Linked DNA regions of Homo sapiens. The protein of the gene in region 3 binds, or shares a complex with, the protein of the main gene of each other region. Each region holds a gene or a part of one and is shown on either strand. Other genes may lie near its edges.

The links.
Region 1: SNIP1 (region 3) and PLRG1 share a complex: the UniProt entries of both Homo sapiens proteins name them as parts of the minor spliceosome.
Region 2: SNIP1 (region 3) and SNRPD1 share a complex: the UniProt entries of both Homo sapiens proteins name them as parts of the minor spliceosome.

Annotation. Positions count from the first base shown.
Region 1 is NC_000004.12:154,540,336-154,543,989, reverse strand, and holds part of PLRG1 (pleiotropic regulator 1), read left to right. Parts: intron 1-1,710; coding exon 1,711-1,803; intron 1,804-3,055; coding exon 3,056-3,205; intron 3,206-3,294; coding exon 3,295-3,396; intron 3,397-3,654. UniProt on the Homo sapiens protein: Involved in pre-mRNA splicing as component of the spliceosome. Component of the PRP19-CDC5L complex that forms an integral part of the spliceosome and is required for activating pre-mRNA splicing.
Region 2 is NC_000018.10:21,625,731-21,629,384, forward strand, and holds part of SNRPD1 (small nuclear ribonucleoprotein Sm D1), read left to right. Parts: intron 1-3,331; coding exon 3,332-3,408; 3' UTR 3,409-3,654. UniProt on the Homo sapiens protein: Plays a role in pre-mRNA splicing as a core component of the spliceosomal U1, U2, U4 and U5 small nuclear ribonucleoproteins (snRNPs), the building blocks of the spliceosome.
Region 3 is NC_000001.11:37,547,737-37,551,390, forward strand, and holds part of SNIP1 (smad nuclear-interacting protein 1), read right to left. Parts: intron 1-3,654. UniProt on the Homo sapiens protein: Required for pre-mRNA splicing as component of the spliceosome. As a component of the minor spliceosome, involved in the splicing of U12-type introns in pre-mRNAs. Down-regulates NF-kappa-B signaling by competing with RELA for CREBBP/EP300 binding.

The DNA.
Region 1 (3,654 bases), on a different chromosome or scaffold from region 3:
GATGAGCATGGCCCTTCCACAAGGATAACACAGATTCGTGAAGTGTTCCATACTGTTTATTTTGCATTGCTTGCCTATACCAAAATATCTCATGTACTCCATAAATACATTTCTACTGTGTACCCACAAAAATTAAAAACAGAAAATTTTAAAAAAGAAAATGTACATAGTAGGAAATGTACAGCTACACATAATTTAATATGTATCTTAAAAATTTCATTTTTCAAATGATTGTACAGTAAGAGCCTTTTTGTTTGACATACAGCTCTAATGAATTGTAATAGATGTATTGATTTGGGTAACCACTACCACAATTAGGATATAGATGTTACACCACCTCAAAAAACACCCTTGTGCTATTCGTTTGTAGTTACACTTTCCTTCACCTCTGACAATCACTGATCTGTTTTCTATCACTATAGTTGTCTTATTTTTTTTCAATAATTTCAGTTCTAATTTATTTTTAATTTTTATGGCTAACATAATAGATGTGCATATTTATGGGCTACATATCAAATTTGATACAAGCATACAGTGTGTAGGCCAGGCATGGTGGCTCATGCCTATAATCCCAGTGCTTTGGGAGGCCTAGGCAAGCGCATCTCTTGAGCCTAGGAGTTCAGTACCAGCCTGGGCAACACAACAAAACCCCGCCTCTACAAAAAAATACAAAAATTGGCTATGTGTAGTGGAGCACACCTGTAGTCCCAGCTACTCCAGAGGCTGAAGTGGGAGGATCACTTGGGCTCAGGAGGCGGAGGTTGCAGTGAGCCAAGATCACGCCACTGCACTCCAGCCTGGGCGACAGAGTGACACCCTATCTCAAAACAAAAAACAAAGAAAAACATACAGTGTGTAATGATCAAATCACGGTAATTGGGATATTATTTCTTTGTATTAGGAACATTCCAATTTTACTCTTCTAGTTATTTTGAAATATACAATAAATTACTCTTAACTGTAGTCACTCTATTGTGCTACCAAGCTAACTAGCCAAACTAGTGCTACCAAACTAGCTAACCAAACTAGTGCTACCAAACACTAAATCTTACTCCCTTTATCTATTTTTGTACCCGTGATCCACCTCTTCTTTATCTTCTGCCTCCCCACTATTCTTCCCAACCTCTGGTAGCCATCATTCAACTCTGAAGATCATTTATTTTTTAGCTCCCGTATATGAGAGAGAGCACGCAATATTTGTTTTTCTGTGCCTGGCTTATTTCACTTAACATAGTATCTTCCAGTTCCATCCATGTTGTTGCAAATAACAGAATTTCATTCTTTTTTATGGCTGAATAGTATTCCATTGTGTGTATGTACCACATTTTATTTATCCATTCACCTCATGATGGACACTTAGGTTGGTTTAGCTGTGTCTTTTTGACTATGTCATATAAATGGAATCATACAATATGTACTTTTTGAGACTGGCTTCCTTCACACAGCTTAATACTTTGTGAGTCATTGAAGTTGTTGCAAGTATTAATAATGTATTCCTTTTTATTACTGAGTAGTTTACATTATATAGATGAGCCACAATTTGTGTTAACTATTAACTCACTGAAGATAATTTCATATTATTGTAAAATGTAATAGTCATTATCTTTTATGATTTGAAGATGGGAGGGCAATTCAAACTCGGGCTGCAGTTAAACTTAAATACATTTTAACTTCTACGTTGGCCTGCCCATTCTACTTTGTTTTATACAGGTTATCAGTGGGCATCTTGGCTGGGTTCGATGTATTGCTGTGGAACCTGGAAATCAGTGGTTTGTTACTGGATCTGCTGACAGAACTATAAAGGTAATAATGAAGGAAGAAAAAATAAACATGACTTTGTGTTTGTCATGTAAGTTTAATCAGTTATTATTTCCTGTGGCAGGAATTGCTATTGCAGTTCCTCTGTTATTTTAGACCTGAATAAGGAGTAAAATTTATCATTTATACTAATAAGTGTTCTAAATAAATATCTGTTTGAAAAGTGCTATTTAAACCACTTTTTCTTTACCTACTGAATACCTACCACTAATTCCTTTATACTTACATTGTTCTCTCCAACTGGTTACAAAATTAAGAGCATGCTCATTCATAGAAAATGTGGAAAATATAGAGAATTAGGAAAGTACATAGACCTGTATATAATCCTACCATTGTTAGATATTTGGATAAGTTTCGTTTTAGTATTTATTTCTGTAAGTATCAATACCTTCACTTCTAAGCTCTTTTCCTGTGTGTGTATCTTTTAAAAAATCATTCTTAGTATGTAATTTTGTATCTTGCTTTTTTCACTTAACGTTGTATCAAAGGCATATTCCTGTGAAAAATTTACCATCTTTTAAAGTGGTTGCATAATATTATATCATTTAGATAGTCTGTAATCTGTTTTCCTATTACTGGACAGTAGAGTTTTTAGTCTGATTTTCACCATTACAAGTAATGCTGTTAAGTTTTGTATATAAGACTTTTTCTGTATTTTAAATTATTTTGTTATGGTAGAGTTCCATAAATGGAATAAATGGGTCAAATATTTTTGAAGCTGATACCCAAAGTACAAATTACTTTCCAAATGGGTGAATCGATACTTGCAGTGTATGAGAGGATCCTTTTCAGCACATTGGTTGTACATTCCTTTACAAATATCTAATATGGTAAGCAAAAATGGATACTTAATCTTTTTAAAAAACTTTGTATGAAATTTCTAATGAGTGTGAACTTTTTCATATCTGTATTTGCTGCTTTTAGGATTTCTTTAAGTTGTTGCCAGCCTCAGTTAATTTAATACCATACTTTTCTTACTGTTATTATCAAAGATATCATTTATATAACAAGAAGGTTAACCTTTTGTCATCTAATTGCAAATATTTTTCCAGTTTGAGCATGCCAGTTTTTTTCTTGCTTTTATTTGGAGGGGAGTCATTTTGCAAAATTTTTTATTTTTACGTATTTGTTATCTTTTTCCTTTTGTCTTTGAAAGCTCAGTTTTAATAATCAGGTTTCTAAAATTTTGTTTTGCAGTAACCAGTGAAAGAAAAAAATAAATATTCTTTGATTGCAGATCTGGGACTTGGCTAGTGGCAAATTAAAACTGTCATTGACTGGGCATATTAGTACTGTGCGGGGCGTGATAGTAAGCACAAGGAGCCCATATCTGTTCTCTTGTGGAGAAGACAAACAAGTGAAATGCTGGGATCTCGAATACAATAAGGTAAGTTTGGAGTTAAGGATTTAAAACATTGTGAACTACTATTTATCTTTCTAATTCTAGAAGTTTTAACTTTCCTGCTTTGTCTTTAGGTTATACGGCATTATCATGGACATTTAAGTGCAGTGTATGGTTTGGATTTGCACCCGACAATCGATGTGTTGGTAACCTGTAGTCGAGATTCAACTGCACGGGTAAATGGGATAGAGTTGTGTATTTATCTGTAAATATATTGCATCTTGTAGGGTGCACTTTCGGTTTCAGTGTCTTCAATTGATTGATAGAGAATTAAAGATAGCTGTCTTGAGTCATCAATATCCTAGTCCCTAAGTTTCTTAACTTGCATTTTTTTCCACCTTAGTCTTCAGTTGTATGGCCTCACCATGTTAGTGTTATTAGTGCCCTGCCCCTGAAATGTGATATTCTCACGTTCCATTCTGTAACAACTATTG
Region 2 (3,654 bases), on a different chromosome or scaffold from region 3:
CTCTCCAGTAGCTGGGACCACAGGCGCCTGCAACCACGCCCGGCTAATTTTTTGTATTTTTAGTAGAGACGGGGTTTCACCGTGTTAGCCAAGCGGTCTCGATCTCCTGACCTCATGATCCGCCTGCCTGGGCCTCCCTAAGTGCTGGGATTACAGGCGTGAGCCACGGTGCCTGGCCCAAAATCTTTTATCTACTGTGTTTTCTCTGCTTTTCTTTGTTCCTCTGGGTAGTTATCATTTTTGTTCCTTTTCTATCATAAATACTATTTCAGAAGAAATTGAAGGTAAGTGTGGTCAATTTGGCCCATTTTAACGTGTTCTAGACTTACAGTTTTTGTGTGTACACATTTAAAATAGTACGGTTTAAAATAACTGAAATTGGCCAGGTGCGGTGGCTCATGCCTGTAATCCCAGTACTTTGGGAGGCAGAGGCGGGCAGATCGCCTGAACTCGGAAGTTCGAGACCAGCCCGGGCAACATGGCATGAACTTTGTCTCTACTAAAAATACAAAAATTAACCAGGCATGGTGGCAGATGCCTGTAATCCCAGCTACTCGGGTGGCTGAGGCAGGAGAATTTCTTGAACCCAGAAAATGGAGGCTCCGGTGAGCCGAGATTACGCCACTGCACTCCAGCCTGGGTGACAGAGTAAAACCCTGTCGCCAAAAAAAAAAAAAAAAAAAAAGGAAACTACAACAAATTAAATAATGAAAATGAGTCTTCGTTTCAAGTTTGTCATAGTCTAGTGTTAGGGAGTTATTTAAAAATTATTGGTTTGGGCCAGGTGTGGTGGCTCACGCCTGTAATCCCAGCACTTTCAGAGGCTGAGGCAGCTGGATCACAAGGTCAGGAGTTCAACACCAGCCTGGCCAATGGTGAAACCCCATTTCTACTGAAAATACAAAAATTAGCCAGGTGTGGTGGCGGTCACCTATAATCCCAGCTACTCGGGAGGCTAAGGCAGGGAATTGCTCGAACCTGGGAGGCAGAGGTTGTAGTGACCCGAGATCGCACTACTGCACTCCAGCCTGGACAACAGAGAGAGACTTGGTCTCAAAAAAAAAAAAAAAATTGTTTTGTTTGTTGTTTGTTTGGTAAGAGACAAGATCTCACTGTGTTGCTCAGGCTGCAGTGAAGTGGCATGATCATAGCTCACTGCAGCCTCAAACCCCTGGCTTCAGGCTGTCTTCTGCGTTGGCCTCCCAAATGTTTGGATTTTTTTTTTTTTTGAATAAACATTTATTTTCTTTCTTTAAAAAAAAAAAAAAGAAGCAGCAGCTGGGCGCGGTGGCTCACGCCTGTAACCCCAGCACTTTGGAAGGCCGAGGCAGGTGGATCACCAGCCTGGCCAACAGAGTAAAACCCCATCTCTACTAAAAATACAAAAAAGTAGCTGGGCGTGGTGGTGGGCGCCTGCAGTCCCAGCTACTCGGGAGGCTGAGGCAGGAGAATCGCTTGAACCCGAGAGGCGGAGATTGCAGTGAGCAGTTGTTTTCTTAATTTATCTTTCTTTTTTACAGATATGCACCACCAAACCTGGCTAATTTTTTATTTTTTATTTTTTTGTAAAGACAGGGTCTCCCTATGTTGTCCAGGATAGTCTTGAACTCTTGGTCTCAAACAATCCTCCTGCTGTGGCCTCCCAAAGTGCTGGGATTATAGGTGTGAGCCACCATCATACCTGGTCCATTTTCTTTTCTTGGGTTTTTTTTTTTTTTTTTTTTTTTGAGACAGAGTCATGCTCTGTTGCCCAGGCTGGAGTGCCATGGCGCGATCTCCACTCATTACAACCTCTGCCTCCCAGGTTCAAGCAGTTCTCCTGCCTCAACCTCCCAAGTAGCTGGGATTACAGGTGCCCAGCCCTTTTGTTGTTGTTGTTGTTGTTGTTTTACAACACCCCTCCAACTCTGTTTTTCCCATTTTCTTTATTTTTTTAAACACTTCATTTTGAAATAATTTTAGACACAAAAAGTTGCAAAAATAGTACAAGGAATTCCCATACACTTTTCACCAAGATTGTCTAAATGTTAAAATGTCATATAACTACAAAAAATTAGAAATTTTACATTGATGTGTCACTACTGTATTATCTAGAGACCTTTCTCACATTTCTCTGATTGTCCCTTTAATGTCCTTTTCCTGGTCCAAGATCCAATCCAGTACAACAGGTTGCATTTACTTGTACGTTTCCTTAGTTTCCTTTAATGCGTATCAGCTGGTTCTCCTCAGTTTTCCTTTTGTGACCTTGATACTTTGTAAGAGTACGGGCCAGTTATTTTGTGAAATGTCCCTTAATTAGCATCTTAAACTTACTATTTATTGCTTAGAATGGTAAGACTAGAATCAGTGTGTACAAATTTCTAATGTGGCCAGGTGCGGTGGCTCACACCTGTAATCCCACCACTTTGGGAGGCTGAGGCTGGAGGATTGCTTTGGCCCAAGAGTTTGAGAGCAGCTTGGGCAACAAAGGGAGACCTCATCTCTACAAAAATTTTAAAAATTAGCCAGACATGATGGTTTGTACCTGTAGTCCCAGCTACTCAGGAGGCTTAGATGGGAGGATCACTTGAGCCCAGGAGTTCAAGGCTGCAGTGAGGTGTAATTACACTCCAGATGGGACTACAGAGTGAGACCCTGTATTTAAAAAACAAAAACAAAAACATTTAGAATGTGACTGACTTCTATGTCAAGATTTTCTAATATTCTTAGCTGTCTGAAGATGAAATAAGTTTATTTGGGTCATGAATTCCCTATCACCATGATACTCAACTAGAGTTAGGATGACCCAGTAGGGATATTACTATTTGGATTAAAGCACTAGATTATGTGTAGGTCAAATGAGTTTTAATTTTCTGAAGAGTTAATAAGATTGTGATTTGATGTAATACATTTAAACTTTCCTGGTTTTGAATTAACTTGCTTGGATTTTATTCAGTTACCAAAACTCTGGCATCAAGGTGATCATGTTTTATTCTGTGATATATATCTTCCCTTTTTTTGTGAGGTTCAAATCATTTTATGGTGAATTTGAGACATGATATAAAGAAAAAGTATTTTTAAATTTGACACATTTCTTAGTAAATAAATTGAAATGAAACAAATAATAATCTCCCTAGGCCTTTAGTTATTGGTTCTGCATGATAATGTGTTGGGGGGTGGAGGGAATCTGAAGTCTAACACATTTAACAGAAGCTAGTTAAACTTTATTTACTGTAGCTACTAATAAAGAGCTATAAACAGGGAAAGGTGTGTGTGTAAATGTTGTTTGTGGTGTCTAGGTAACATTGGTGCAGGAGAGAATTGAACTTGGTTTGTTTTTCTTTTCCTTCAGTTGCAGGAAGAGGCAGAGGAAGAGGAAGAGGAAGAGGACGTGGCCGTGGCAGAGGAAGAGGGGGTCCTAGGCGATAATGTCTCTCAAGATTTCAAAGTCATATGAGATTTGGGATATTTTTTGTACAGGTTGTGTTTGTTTATGTCAGTTTTTAATAAACATAAATGTGGGACAGAGCTGTCTATTTAGTATATCAAAGTTTTAGTAGTTTCCTCCACATTCACGAAATTACCACAGTGAGAGCTAAGCATTTCTACTGGGCAGTTTCATTTTTAGTTGATCAGGTTTTAAGTTTTTGAACTAAAATTTTTCTTTTTCTTTTT
Region 3 (3,654 bases):
AACAACAACAACAACCAAAAAAAAACACAAAATGGTGGTTCAGAGGTTGAGAAAAGAATAAAGTAATCATTTGGTATCCTCAGGAGATTGGTTCCAGGATCCCCAGTGGATAAAAAAGATTATCTCAGGGCCAGGTGCAGTGACTCATGCCTGTAATCCCAGCACTTTGGGAGGCCAAGGCAGGTGGATTACGAGGTCAGGAGATGGAGACCATCCTGGCTAACATAGTGAAACCCTGTCTCTACTAAAAAAAAAATACAAAAAAATTAGCCAGGCATGGTGGCGGGCGCCTGTAGTCCCAGCTACTCAGGAGGCTGAGGCAGGAGAATGGCGTGAACCCCGGGAGGCGGAGCTTGCAGTAAGCCGAGATCGCACCACTGCACTCCAGCCTGGGCAACGCAGCGAGACTCCATATCAAAAAAAAAAAAAAAAAAAAAAAGATATCTTAGGATGCTCAAGTTCCTTATATAAAAATCTGTGAATATCCTTCTGTATACTTTAAATCATCACTAGGTTATTTATAATACCTAATACAACGTAAATGCTATATAAATAGTTGTTATACTGTTATTTGTCTTTTAAAATTTGCTTTTTTTTTTAAAACAGTCTTGCTCTGTCACCCAGGCTGGAGTGCAGTGGTGCGATCTTGGCTCACTGTAATCCCCGCCTCCCAGGTTCAAGTGATTCTCCTGCCTCAGCCTCCCAAGTAGCTGGGATTACACGCGCCCACCACCACACCCAGCTAATTTTTGTATTTTTAGTAGAGACGAAGTTTCACCATGTTGGCCAGGCTGGTCTCCTGACCTCAGGTGATCCACCCGCCTCGGCCTCCCAAAGTGCTGGGATTACAGGCATGAGCCACTGTGATCGGCCCAGACTCTAATCCCAGTTACTTGGGAGGCTGAGGCAGGAGAATCCCTTGAACCCAGGAGGCGGAGGCTGCAGTGAGCAGAGATTGCGCCACTCCAGCCTGGGCAACAGAACGAGACTCCGTCTCAAAAAAAAAAGAAAAAAAAAAAAAAAAGACGACTGAATTCTCATCCCTCAAAATTGAGAATAAGGCAAGAGTGTCTGCTCTCATTACTCTTTTATCTCTCCTTGCCTGACGCCATCCGTGTGATTTGCTCCTCCTTGCTTCCCACCATGATTGTGAGGCCTCTCCAGCCATGTGGAACTGTAAGTCCATTAAACCTCTTTCTTTTGTAAATCGCCGGGTCTCGGGTATGTCTTTATCAACAGCATGAAAACGGACTAATGCAAACAACAAAAGGAAATAAAATGCATTCAGATTGTAAAGGAAGAAATAAAACTGTCCCTATTTGTAGATATGATTGTCTACGTAGAAAATCCCAAGTAATCTTAAAAAAAAAAAAAAACTAGAATACATTAGTTCAGCAAGGATATAGGATGAAGATAAACACACAAAAATGAATTATATTTCTATATAGTAACAATGAACATTTGGACACTCATTTAAAATACCCTTTATAATCATTCCACAAAGAAATATGTATAGGATTTATAAGCTGAAAACTACAACCACTGATAAAAGATATCAAAGATGATCTAAATAAAAGGGGAGATACACAATGTTCATGGATTAGAAGATTTAACATAGTAAAAAGTCAATTATTGCCCCCAAACGCCAGTTTAACACAAATCCTATCAAAATCCTAGCAAGACTTTTCTTTCAGATCTCACTCTGTCGCCCAGGCTGGAGTGCAGTGGTATGATCACTGTTCACCGCAGCCTCAACCTCCTAGGCTCAAGTAATCCTCCCACTCAGGAGCTACTCAGCCTCCTGAGTAGCTGGGACCACAGGCATGCCACCACGCCCAACTAATTTTTGTATTTTTTGTACAGATGGGTTTCACCATGTTGCCCAGGCTGGTCTGGAGCTCCTGAGCTCAAGTGATCTGCCCACCTCAGCCTCCCAAAGTGTTGGGATTACAGGCATGAGTCGCTGTGACCGGCCCAGACTTTTTAAAAATAGAGGCAAGATTGTTCTAAAACTTACATGGATGAAAAAAGAAGCTGAATAGCTAAAGCAATTTTTATAAAGAAGACTACAATGGGAAAAATCAGTCCATACAATTTCAAGACTTATTATATAGCTATAGTAATCAAGACTGTGTGGTATTGGCAGAGTGACAGACACTGACAAATGAAACAGAACAGAGATTCCAGAAATAGACCCACACAAATATGCCCAACTGATTTTTGACAAAAGAGCAAAAGTAATTCATTGGAGGAAAGATGGTCTTTTCAACAAATGGTGTTGATGCAAGTGGACATTCATAGGCAAAAAAAACAAAAACAAAACAAAACAAAACAAAACAAAACAAAAACCCTGAAACCCTGAAAAGAAACTGAAAGCAGATCATGGACTTTTAAGAAAAAAAATTTAGGAGAAAATTTCAGAGATCTAGGGCTAGGCAAAAAGTTCTTAGCCATGACATCAAAAGCACAATCCATAAAAGGAAAAACAGATAAGCTGGACTTCATTGAAATTAAAAACTTTTGCTCTGAGATAAACCCTGTTAAGAAAATGAAGACAGCTACAGACTGGGAAAAAATATTTGTAAACCATTTATCCCCAAAGGGCTAGTATCCACAATATAAAAAGAATTCTTAAACACTAAACAGTAAAAAAGCAAATAATAGTATTAGAAAACAGGCAAAAGATAGCTGGGCATGGTGGCTCACTTTGCTGTAATCCCAGCACTTTGGGAGGCTGAGGCAGGTGAATCACCAGAGGTCAGGAGTTCAGGACCAGCCTGGTCAAAATGACGAAACCCCATCTCTACTAAAAATACAAAAATTAGCTGGGCATGGTGGCACGAGCCTGTAATCTCAGCTACTTGGGAGGCTGAGGCAGGAGAATCCCTTGAACCTGGGAGGCTGAGGTTGCAATGAGCTGAGATCGCGCCATTACACTCCAGCCTGGGCAACAAGAGTGAAACTCCGTCTCAAAAAATAAAAAATAAAAAATAAAAAATAAACAGGCAAAAGACATGAGACATTGCACCTGAGAAGATACATATAGATGGCAAATAAGCACATGAAAAGACGTCCAAGGCCAGGTGCAGTGGCTCACGCTTGTAATCCCAGCACTTCGGGAGGCCGAGGCAGGCAGATCACGAGGTCAGAAGTTTGAGACCAGCCTGGCCAACATAGTGAAACCCTTTCTGTACTAAAAATACAAAAAATTAGCTGGGCGTGGTGGTGGGCATCTGTAATCCCAGCTACTCAGGAGGCTGAGGCAGGAGAATCACTTGAACCTGGGAAGGGGAGATTGCAGTGAGCCAAGATCACGCCATTGCACTCCAGCCTGGGTGACACACACACACACACACACACACACACACACTGACACACAAAGAAAAGATGTCCAATATCATAAGCCATTAGGAAAATGCAAATTACGGGAAGCTGAGGCAGGAGAATCGTTTGAACTCAGAAGGCGGAGGTCGCAGTGAGCCGAGATCGTGCCACTGCACTCCAGCCTGGGTGACAGAGCCAGACTCTGTCTCAAAAAAAAAAAAAAAAGGAAAACGCAAATTAAAATCACAATGAAATACCACTACACGCCTATCAGAATGGCTAAAATAAAGTGATAACTTGAAATGCTGATAAAGATACAGGGAAACCGGA